3 separate regions of the Homo sapiens genome follow, and all the other regions are linked to region 3. Evidence: fine-mapped expression QTL. A gene starts in region 3. Each other region holds a variant in brackets. All regions are shown on one strand. Distances are from middle to middle.

Evidence for each region. PIP is the estimated chance that this variant, and not a neighbour inherited with it, causes the effect.
Region 1: its variant is the best candidate, but not a certain one, in a credible set for the expression of DLG1 in whole blood (TOPMed, PIP 0.50).
Region 2: its variant is the best candidate, but not a certain one, in a credible set for the expression of DLG1 in whole blood (INTERVAL, PIP 0.87).

Annotation. Positions count from the first base shown.
Region 1 is chr3:197,475,233-197,477,992 of GRCh38, forward strand. It overlaps LOC105374309 (a long non-coding RNA gene), which reads left to right and starts at 2,754. Exons shown (of 2, transcript XR_924902.1): 1 at 2,754-2,760. The variant C/T (reference allele first, on the strand shown) is at 1,616.
Region 2 is chr3:197,249,960-197,252,719 of GRCh38, forward strand. The region is part of intron 4 of DLG1 (discs large MAGUK scaffold protein 1); the gene reads right to left. Among named protein-coding and RNA genes, the nearest start is that of MIR4797, 43 kb to the right of the region's middle. The variant C/CAA (reference allele first, on the strand shown) is at 1,021.
Region 3 is chr3:197,297,551-197,300,310 of GRCh38, forward strand. DLG1 (discs large MAGUK scaffold protein 1) reads right to left here and starts at 1,062. Exons shown (of 25, transcript NM_001366207.1): 1 at 986-1,062. DLG1-AS1 (DLG1 antisense RNA 1) reads left to right here and starts at 697. Exons shown (of 3, transcript NR_038289.1): 1 at 697-1,060; 2 at 1,428-1,542. RefSeq lists silencers at 1-618, 1,109-1,238.

The DNA of each region.
Region 1 (2,760 bases), 180 kb after region 3:
CTGAGGCGGGTGGATCACCTGAGGTCAGGAGTTTGAGACCAGCCTGGCCAACATGGAAACTTTGTCTCTACTAAAAATACAAAAACTAGCCAGGTGTGGTGGTGGGTACCTGTGATTCCAGCTACTCGGGAGGCTGAGGCAGGAGAATTGCTTGAACCTGGGAGGCGGAGGTTGCAGTGAGCCGAGGCTGTGCCACTGCACTCCAGCCTGGGCGACAGAGCAAGACTCAGTCTCAAAAGAAAAAAAAAAAAGGTTGGGGTGGGGGTAGTCTTGAAGGAGGAGCTATTAAGACTCAAAGAAAGGCATTCTAATGATGGAATTATGGACACTGGGGTTGAAGGGGGTAATGTCAATCCAGATTTGCAGAGAGAGGAAAAGAGAGAGGGAGAGCGTGAGCATGTTGGGTGGGAAGGGATTGCTGCTGTCTTTTGCTGCCTTGTCTTCTCACGCCTCCTCTTCCTTCTGCCCTTGCCTCGACCCAAGCTTTTCTCTGCCTGGCTGTGCTGTGACATGCTTTTTTTTCCACTTGTACATTCTGTTTCCCAAGGTGTTTCATCCCAGAGAAACACCTGCTCCCTCTGAAGGAGGTTGCCTGAATTATAAATGAGCCTCCAACAGAGAACATGTGCTCTTTTCCTTCTTTTTCAGAAGAAAAAGGCCCAGACAAGTGTCTACTGAATTTCCTTGTTTTTCAGAAGGAAAAGAGAAAAAGAGGTAAACAAGTGGCCAGAATGTTTCTCTGAGCATCCCAGGACGATGCAAACCTCACTTCCCTTTACCTCAGACCCCTGGTTTGAATCCTGAAGCCAACCTCAGGGGGGTTGTCACTCATTCTGACCACCAATACTTTTGTGTGTTCTGGGCCTCCCCAGCCCTGTTCCTTGCCCTCCCTCTTCCTCTGTGTGGGTGTGCCCTCCTTCTCCCCTGTCTCTACATGTCCAAATACTATGTATTCAAGACTCAGAACAAAATGCTAGCTCCTCCAGGAAGCCTTCCTGGGTTCTCGAATTGGACATGATCTCTCCATCCTCAGTCCTTTTCCTTCCTAATTTCCCTGCCTCCTACGAGTGGGACTCTGGCCAATTTCCCTTAGTCAGTCAGGTAAAAGGCCCTGCTCGTGGTAGCTGGTCAGGAAATAAAGAAGAAAGGCAGGAAGGGTGGAAAGAAGGGGAGAAGGGAGACTCTACGGGCCCAGACAAGTGTCTACTGAATTCAGAACATGGCAGGGTCAGCAGACGATTTTCCTTTCTTCTCCTTTGTGTGCACTTCTGGGGCTGCTAATGACAAGTCACAGCACAGAGTGTGAAATCTGCCGCTCTCCCAGGGGGCTCCGTCTCAGGTCATTCTCCTCACTGCTTCCCACTCCCTCACTGAAAAGCCTGCATCCAAAGCCCATTACTGGCTCCAGGGTGTGGACCTTGCAGGGAAGAACTGTGTAAGGACAAGACAAAGAGCAGGGCTGAGTGCCGAGTGCCCGGTCAGTGGGGAGGGGGATGTGCTGTGGGATGAGGAGCCCCTGGTTCCTCATCTCCTGGTTTTATCCTCGTCCTCCCCGCCCAGCGAACACCCTCCTCACCCTAACCGTCTATCTTGTTGTTTCCTGTGAGTTTGGTGT[C/T]CTCTCCTTCCATTAAAGCTTCCATTAAACCTCTCTGAGGTTCAAGTCTCTGGTGGCCAGACCTATTGTCTTACACATTTAGACAATGCTCTTCTGCTCATGGGCAGCCATCAAATATATGTGTTGACTTATAAAAGATATACCATCTCTTTTTTTTTTTTTTTGAGACAGTCTATATGTGTTGAGTTATTAAAGATAGACTTTTTTTTTTTTTTTTTTTTTTTTGAGACAGAGCCTCGTCTGTCACCCAGGCTGGAGTGCAGTTGCACGATCTTGGCTCACTGAACCTCCACCTCGCAGGTTTAAGTGATTCTCCTGCCTCAGCCTCCTGAGTAGCTGGGACTACAGGTGCCCACTACCATGCCCAGATACTTTTTGTATTTTTAGTAGAGACGGGGTTTCACCATGTTGGCCAGGCTGGTCTTGAACTCCTGACCTCAAGTGATCCACCCACCTTGGCCTCCCAAAGTGCTGGGATTACAGGCGTGAGCCACTGCGTCCAGCCTATAAACCATTTCTTAATCCAAAGAGCTTGAAGTGCAAGGAGACCCTCCCCTGAAGGCAGGGCTGTCTCCTGGAGACATGGGTGAGGCATATTGGGGATTCAAGTGGCCGAGTCTTCTGCTTCATGCTGCCCAGGCATCCTGGAGAGCTGCCGGATGAAATAGAAGACACCCAGATAAATTTGAATTTCGGGTAAACAATGAAAGTAGTATACGTTTATCCCATGCAATATTTGGGACATACTCATACAAAAAATTATTCATCATTTATCTGAAATTCATTTTAAGTGGATATCCTGTTTTTTGTTTGTTTGTTTGTTTGTTTTTGAGACAGGGTCTCCCTCTGTCACCCAGTCTGGAGTGCAGTGGTGCAATAATGTTTCACTATAGCCCCGACCTCCCAGGCTCAAGTGATCCTCCCACCTTAGTCTCCTGAGTAGCTGGGACTACAGGTTTGCACTACCATACCTGGCTAATTTTGTTTATTTTTTGTAGAGACAAAGTCTCACTATATTGCCCAGGCTGGTCTCAAACTCCTGGACTCAAGCAATCCTCCCATCTCAGCCTCCCAAAGTGCTGCAATTACAGGCGTGAGCCACTGTGCCTGGCCCATCCCGTATTTTTATTTGCTTAATCTGGCAA
Region 2 (2,760 bases), 48 kb before region 3:
TGAATGGGGAAAAATTGAAGGTCTTTCCTCTAAGGTCTGGACCAAGACAAAAATGCCTACTTTCACCGCTTTTATTTCATATAGTACTGGAAAAGCAGTGAAGTAAAACAAAGAAATAAAGGGCACCAAAATTGAAAAGGAAGAAGTCAAATTAGCCTTGTTTACAGATGGCATGATCTCATACCTAGAAAAACCTAAAGACTTCACCAAAAAAAACTGTAAGAACTGATACATATGCTTAGTAAAGCTGCAGGATCCAAAATCAACATGAAAAATCAATAGCATTATATATACCAACAGTGAACAATCTGAAAAGAAATTTAAAAAGCACCGGGCACGGCGGCTCATGCCTGTAATCCCAGCACTTTGGGAGGCCGAGGCAGGTGAATCACGAGGTCAGGAGTTCGAGACCAGCCTGGCCAACATTGTGAAACCCCAGGTCTACTAAAAATACAAAAAATTAGCTGGGCGTCATGGTGGGCACCTGTAATCCCAGCTACTCAGGAGGCTGAGGCAGGGGAATCAGTTGAACCTGCAAGACAGAGGTTGCAGTGAGCCGAGATCATGCCACTGCACTCCAGCCCTGGCGACAGAGTGAGACTCCGTCTCAAAAAAAAAAAAAGAAAAAGAAAAAGAGAAGAAAGAAATTTAAAAAGCAATCACATTTATAATAGCTACAAAGAATATAAAGTGTATGGGAATCAATTGAACCAAAGAAGTTAAAGATCTATACAGGAAAACTATAAAACACTAACTAAAGAAAATGAACTCACACGTGTCATTCCAGCACTTTGGGAGGCTGAGGTGGCAGATCACTTGAAGTCAGGAGATCAAGACCAGCCTGGACAACATAGTGAAACCCTGTCTCTACCAAAAATACAAACATTAGCCAGGCGCAGTGGCAGGTGCCTGTAATCCCAACTACTCAGGAGGCTGTGAAGAGAACCTGGGAGGTAAAGGTTGCAGTGAGCCAAGATCATGCCACTGCACTCCAGCCTGGGCAACAGAGCAAGACTCCAT[C/CAA]AAAAAAAAAAAAAAAAAAAAGGAAATTGAATAGGACCCCCAAAATGGAAAGCTATTCCATGCTCATGAAGTGGAGGAATACTGTAAAAATAACAATACTAAACAAAGTAATCTACAGATTCAGGGACAGGCACGGTGGCTCATGCCTGTAACCCCAGCATTTGGGAGGCCGAGGTGGGTGGACTGCTTGACTACAGCCTGGACAACATGGTGAAACCCAGTCTCTACAAAAACAAACAAAAAAACAAATAAATAAAATACAGACTCTAGGCAATGCCTATCAAATTACCAATGACATTCTTCACAGAAAAAGAAATAGAAAAAAAACCCTAAAAATTATATGGAACCACAAAAGACCCCAAATGGTCAAGGCAAAGAACAAAGCTGGAGGCATCACGCTACTTGACTTCAAATTTACTACAAAGCTACAGTAACCAAATAAGCACGGTACTGGAATAAAAACAGACACACAGAAAAGAAAAAAGAATCCAGGTATAAATTCATGCATTTATAGCCAACTCATCTTCAACAAAGATGCCAAGAACATATAATGGGGAAAGGACAGTCTCTTTAATAAATGATGCTGGGAACACTGGATATCCATATGCATAAGAATGAATGAATGAATGATTTTTTGAGGTTAAGACCTCAAAACCACAGGCAACCAAAGCTAAAAAAGACAAATGAGATTACATCAAGCTAAAAAGCTTCTGCACAGCAAAAAAACACAATCAACAAAGTGAAGAGAAAACTCACAGAATGGGAGAAAATATTTCCAAACTACCCGTCTGACAAGGGATTAATAACCAGGATATATTAAGAGCTTAAACAACTTAATAGCAAAAAAACAAATAATCATATTTTAAAATGGGCACATTTAAAATGGGCAAATGATCTGAACAGACATTTCTCAATAGACCTGTCGAGTGTGGGAAACAATGCCCAGTACATGGTAAGATTCACTAATTGTTAGAAGATCTTTTTGATAATTTTTATGAAACAGTAAAATATGTAGGTTCCTGGCTGTACAGAACAGTCTTTTCTGAATCATTCTTTCTCTTTTCCCTCTTTTATAGTTCTTGTTCCTTGCTTTTTATGACTAGTGTGCTAGTTGTCTCTCCTTATGAGAGGTGGTGGATGGTTTAAGTACAGGTCTATCATCGAGACAAGCTGGAGGTAGGAATAAAAGGAATATGAAAGGGAGGAGATTTAAAGATGCTTCTACCCATTTCTTTTTCTACTTTATAAACCTCTTCTTTTACTGCTTTTACTTTGGATTTTAAAAGCAGTGTCTCAAAGAGATTATACTGTTTTCATAGCAATATTATTCACAATAGCTAAAATATGGAAACAAAGTATCCATTAACGAAATAATGGATACGAAAAATGTGGTATAGACATATAATAGAATATTATTCAGCTTTAAAAGGGTAGGAAATTTTGACATATACTATAACATGGCTGAAACTTGAGGACATGATGCTGAGTGAACCAAGCCAGTCACAAGAAGACAAATACCATCTGACTATACTTTTATGTGGTACTTACGGTAGTTAAAATCAGAGAAACAAAGTAGAATGATGGCTGAGGGAATGAGGAGTTATTGTCTGATGAGGGAATGAGGAGTTATGTCTGATGACTATGGAACTTCAGCTTTGCAAGATGAAAAGAGTCTGTAGATGGATAGTGGTAACGGCTGCATTTCACAAATGTATTTAATACCACTTAACTGTAAACTTA
Region 3 (2,760 bases):
TGGGTACGGGCGGGTGAAGCGCTCCGACCCTTGGCCCCTGAGCCAGCAGCGGCCGCAGAGCGCTGAGAGGGGACCAGCGGGACTGGCCGCCCGCCCTGCTCGGGCCCCCTCCTCTCGCTTGCCTTTCTCCTTGCTCGCTGCCTCCGGGCTGCTCCAGCGGGGGCCGGACAGGGCAGCGGCCGCTCTCCGCGACGCCCTCGCGCCCCGCATGCACACCTCCGCGGGCCCCCACACCTGCGGCGCCGCCACAAAGTTCCGGTGAGCGGCGTGCGCTCGGAACTGGGGTGCGCCCCGGCCAGACTCGGAGCAGCTCCCCAGCCCGGCCCCGCTCCACGTACCCCCGCCCCGCCCGGGGCCCGCGGAGCCGAGCGGAGGGGGCGAAGGGACGGGGGAGGAGCTCCCCTGGGCCGCCGCACCCCCGCGGCCTCGTCCTCCTTCTCGGCCGCGCCGCCTCCTCGCTCGCCGCGGCCCCCCGGCCCGCTCGCCCAGTTGCTGCCGCACGCCCCACCCCCGGAACCTCGCCTCCTTCCGCGCCCCCAACCGCTCTCCCCCGAAACTTTCCGCCAAGATGGCGGCCCCCGAGCTGGCCTGCCGCGCTCCCACGTGACCGCTTTCCCGGCGCTCTCAGCCAATGGGAAGTGAGGAGGCGGCTCGCGCCGAGCCCCGGGCTCCCCGCGCTGCTACCTTCGGGTTGGAAGGGGGAGGCGGGTCGGGGGAGGGCAGGGGAACGGAAGGGGTACCCGGGGAGCATCCTAAGGGAACCTCTTCGCTTAAAAGGGCGGCCGCTGAAGTGGCTCTGAGAACAAAGGAGTTAACACTCGGACTCCACAGGTGGCCCGGGGTGGCCCTGGAGGAGCCCGCCTTTACCTTGCCCTAGCCCACCGGCGCGTCCCGCAGTTCCGAACTAAACGCGCCAGGCCGGGAAGGCTCGGGCTGTCTGAAGAGAGGCGTGACCTCGCCTACACCAGATCCAAGGCGCACATACCGAGACACCCCTCAACCTCACTCAGCAGTGCCGTTTCCAACTCCGCGGCAGAGACAGCGCCTGGCGACCCCGGGGGTAGATCCCCACCGGGGAAAAGCCGCCTTAAGGAGGAGCCAACTGCACCTCCCAGGGGGCGGGGAGGGCGGGGCCTGGGAGAGGGAGAGGGAGGAGTTCGGGGAGGGGTGCCAACTCTGCATTGCCTTCCACTCCAGGCTGATTGTTAAGTTACTCTTCGTCCCTTAGTAATAGGCTTGGGGGGAGGGGTTTCATTACAGAAGGACATATGAAATAGAGACACTGGTTAACTTGGCAAGAGTTTGAGGGTTATAGTACAAGATTTTTAAGCCTAACTGATTAATTCCGAGTATGGTATACTTAAGGGTGGGCAGAGAAGGTTTGTTCATTCATTCGCTCATTCATTCATTCATTCATTTCCCTCAAGCCTGCGTCCCCGCCCGGTCAGCATCGCAGGTGTTACCCAAACTCTGACGGTCCCTTTAAGAACTCACCCGGAGTCGCGCCCTCCGAAGCTGAGCCGCCCTCGGCCAGCGCTGCAGGTTTGTTTCGTGCGCACCTCCGGGCGGAATTACCGGCCGGCTGGGACCCCGCTCCCGGTCTGAGCCACCCAGGTTATAGAAGGGGAATCTCGGGAAGCTTTCCAAGTCACTGCCCACGTCTTCGAACTTCCTCGGGGTGACGAGGACCTCCCTATTAGGAGGTCCAGAGAGAATTTGCCCAAAGTTACCCCGAGTGAGTGACAGAACTGGAAACCCGGAGATCCTGTCTTTCAAAACCGGAAGGCTCTTCCCAGTAAACCTGACGGCCTCTGACTGAGGCCGTATCCATTGGCTACCAAAGGGAAGGCCGAGGAACCTCGTATTGTAACCTTAACAGCTACTCAGAGGTATACTGACCACTGGTTTTACTTTTGGATTGCACCTTAGAATCCTAACTTACTGTAAGGACCCACCGACTTTAGAACCTATCTAGGACAAGGAACCGAGGTCCGGAAAAAGGGAAGCAACTTGTCCAAGGACATAGACGCTAATCAGTAACAGAGCAGCCGAGAACTCAGGTCTCCTAGCTCTAGTCCAGGGCTCTTTCTCTTGTGATTTTGGACAACTTGACAGAGAGGTATGTTGGTATGTTGGCAGCAGACCTCTGTGCTTTCCCGGATCAAGCATCCTGGGATCTTGAACAACAGTTAAAGCAACATTGCATAGAGAAAATGGGATAGAAGGGTCAAACGGTGCTGAAGGCAGAGGTGTCCTAACAGCCGGGAACTTAACAGAGGGACGGAATTTATTTAGTAGTGAAAGTGGCTCATGACAGGCATCATACTCTCAAGACTTCGCTGATGGACTGTGAATGGGATGGTTGCAGTAAGAAACCATTCTAACAATGGAATCTCTTCAGAATTCAGAAGAAACAGGGAGGGAAATTTGCCCTCTCCCTTGATAACATTTATTGTTCATATATGTTCACTTGCTAGGAAACGGGGATAGAAATAAATAAGATCCGAGTCCTGCTCTCAAGGATACACAGCCTTGTAGCAAGTACACAAAGGCCAATGCACCTTTTCCCAGGGGACACTGAGGAGTCAAAAACAAAATTTGTGTGAGTTCTCAATGTCATCCTAGCCTTCCCCTAAAAGCAAAAAGGAGGAAGGGGAGGAAAGAGGACGTGTCCTTTTTTCTTGTCATTCTGTGTGACAGCCCTATTTGGTTGTCAGCGGTGTACAAAAGCAGCAGTGAACCCAGCACTTGTTCTACCCT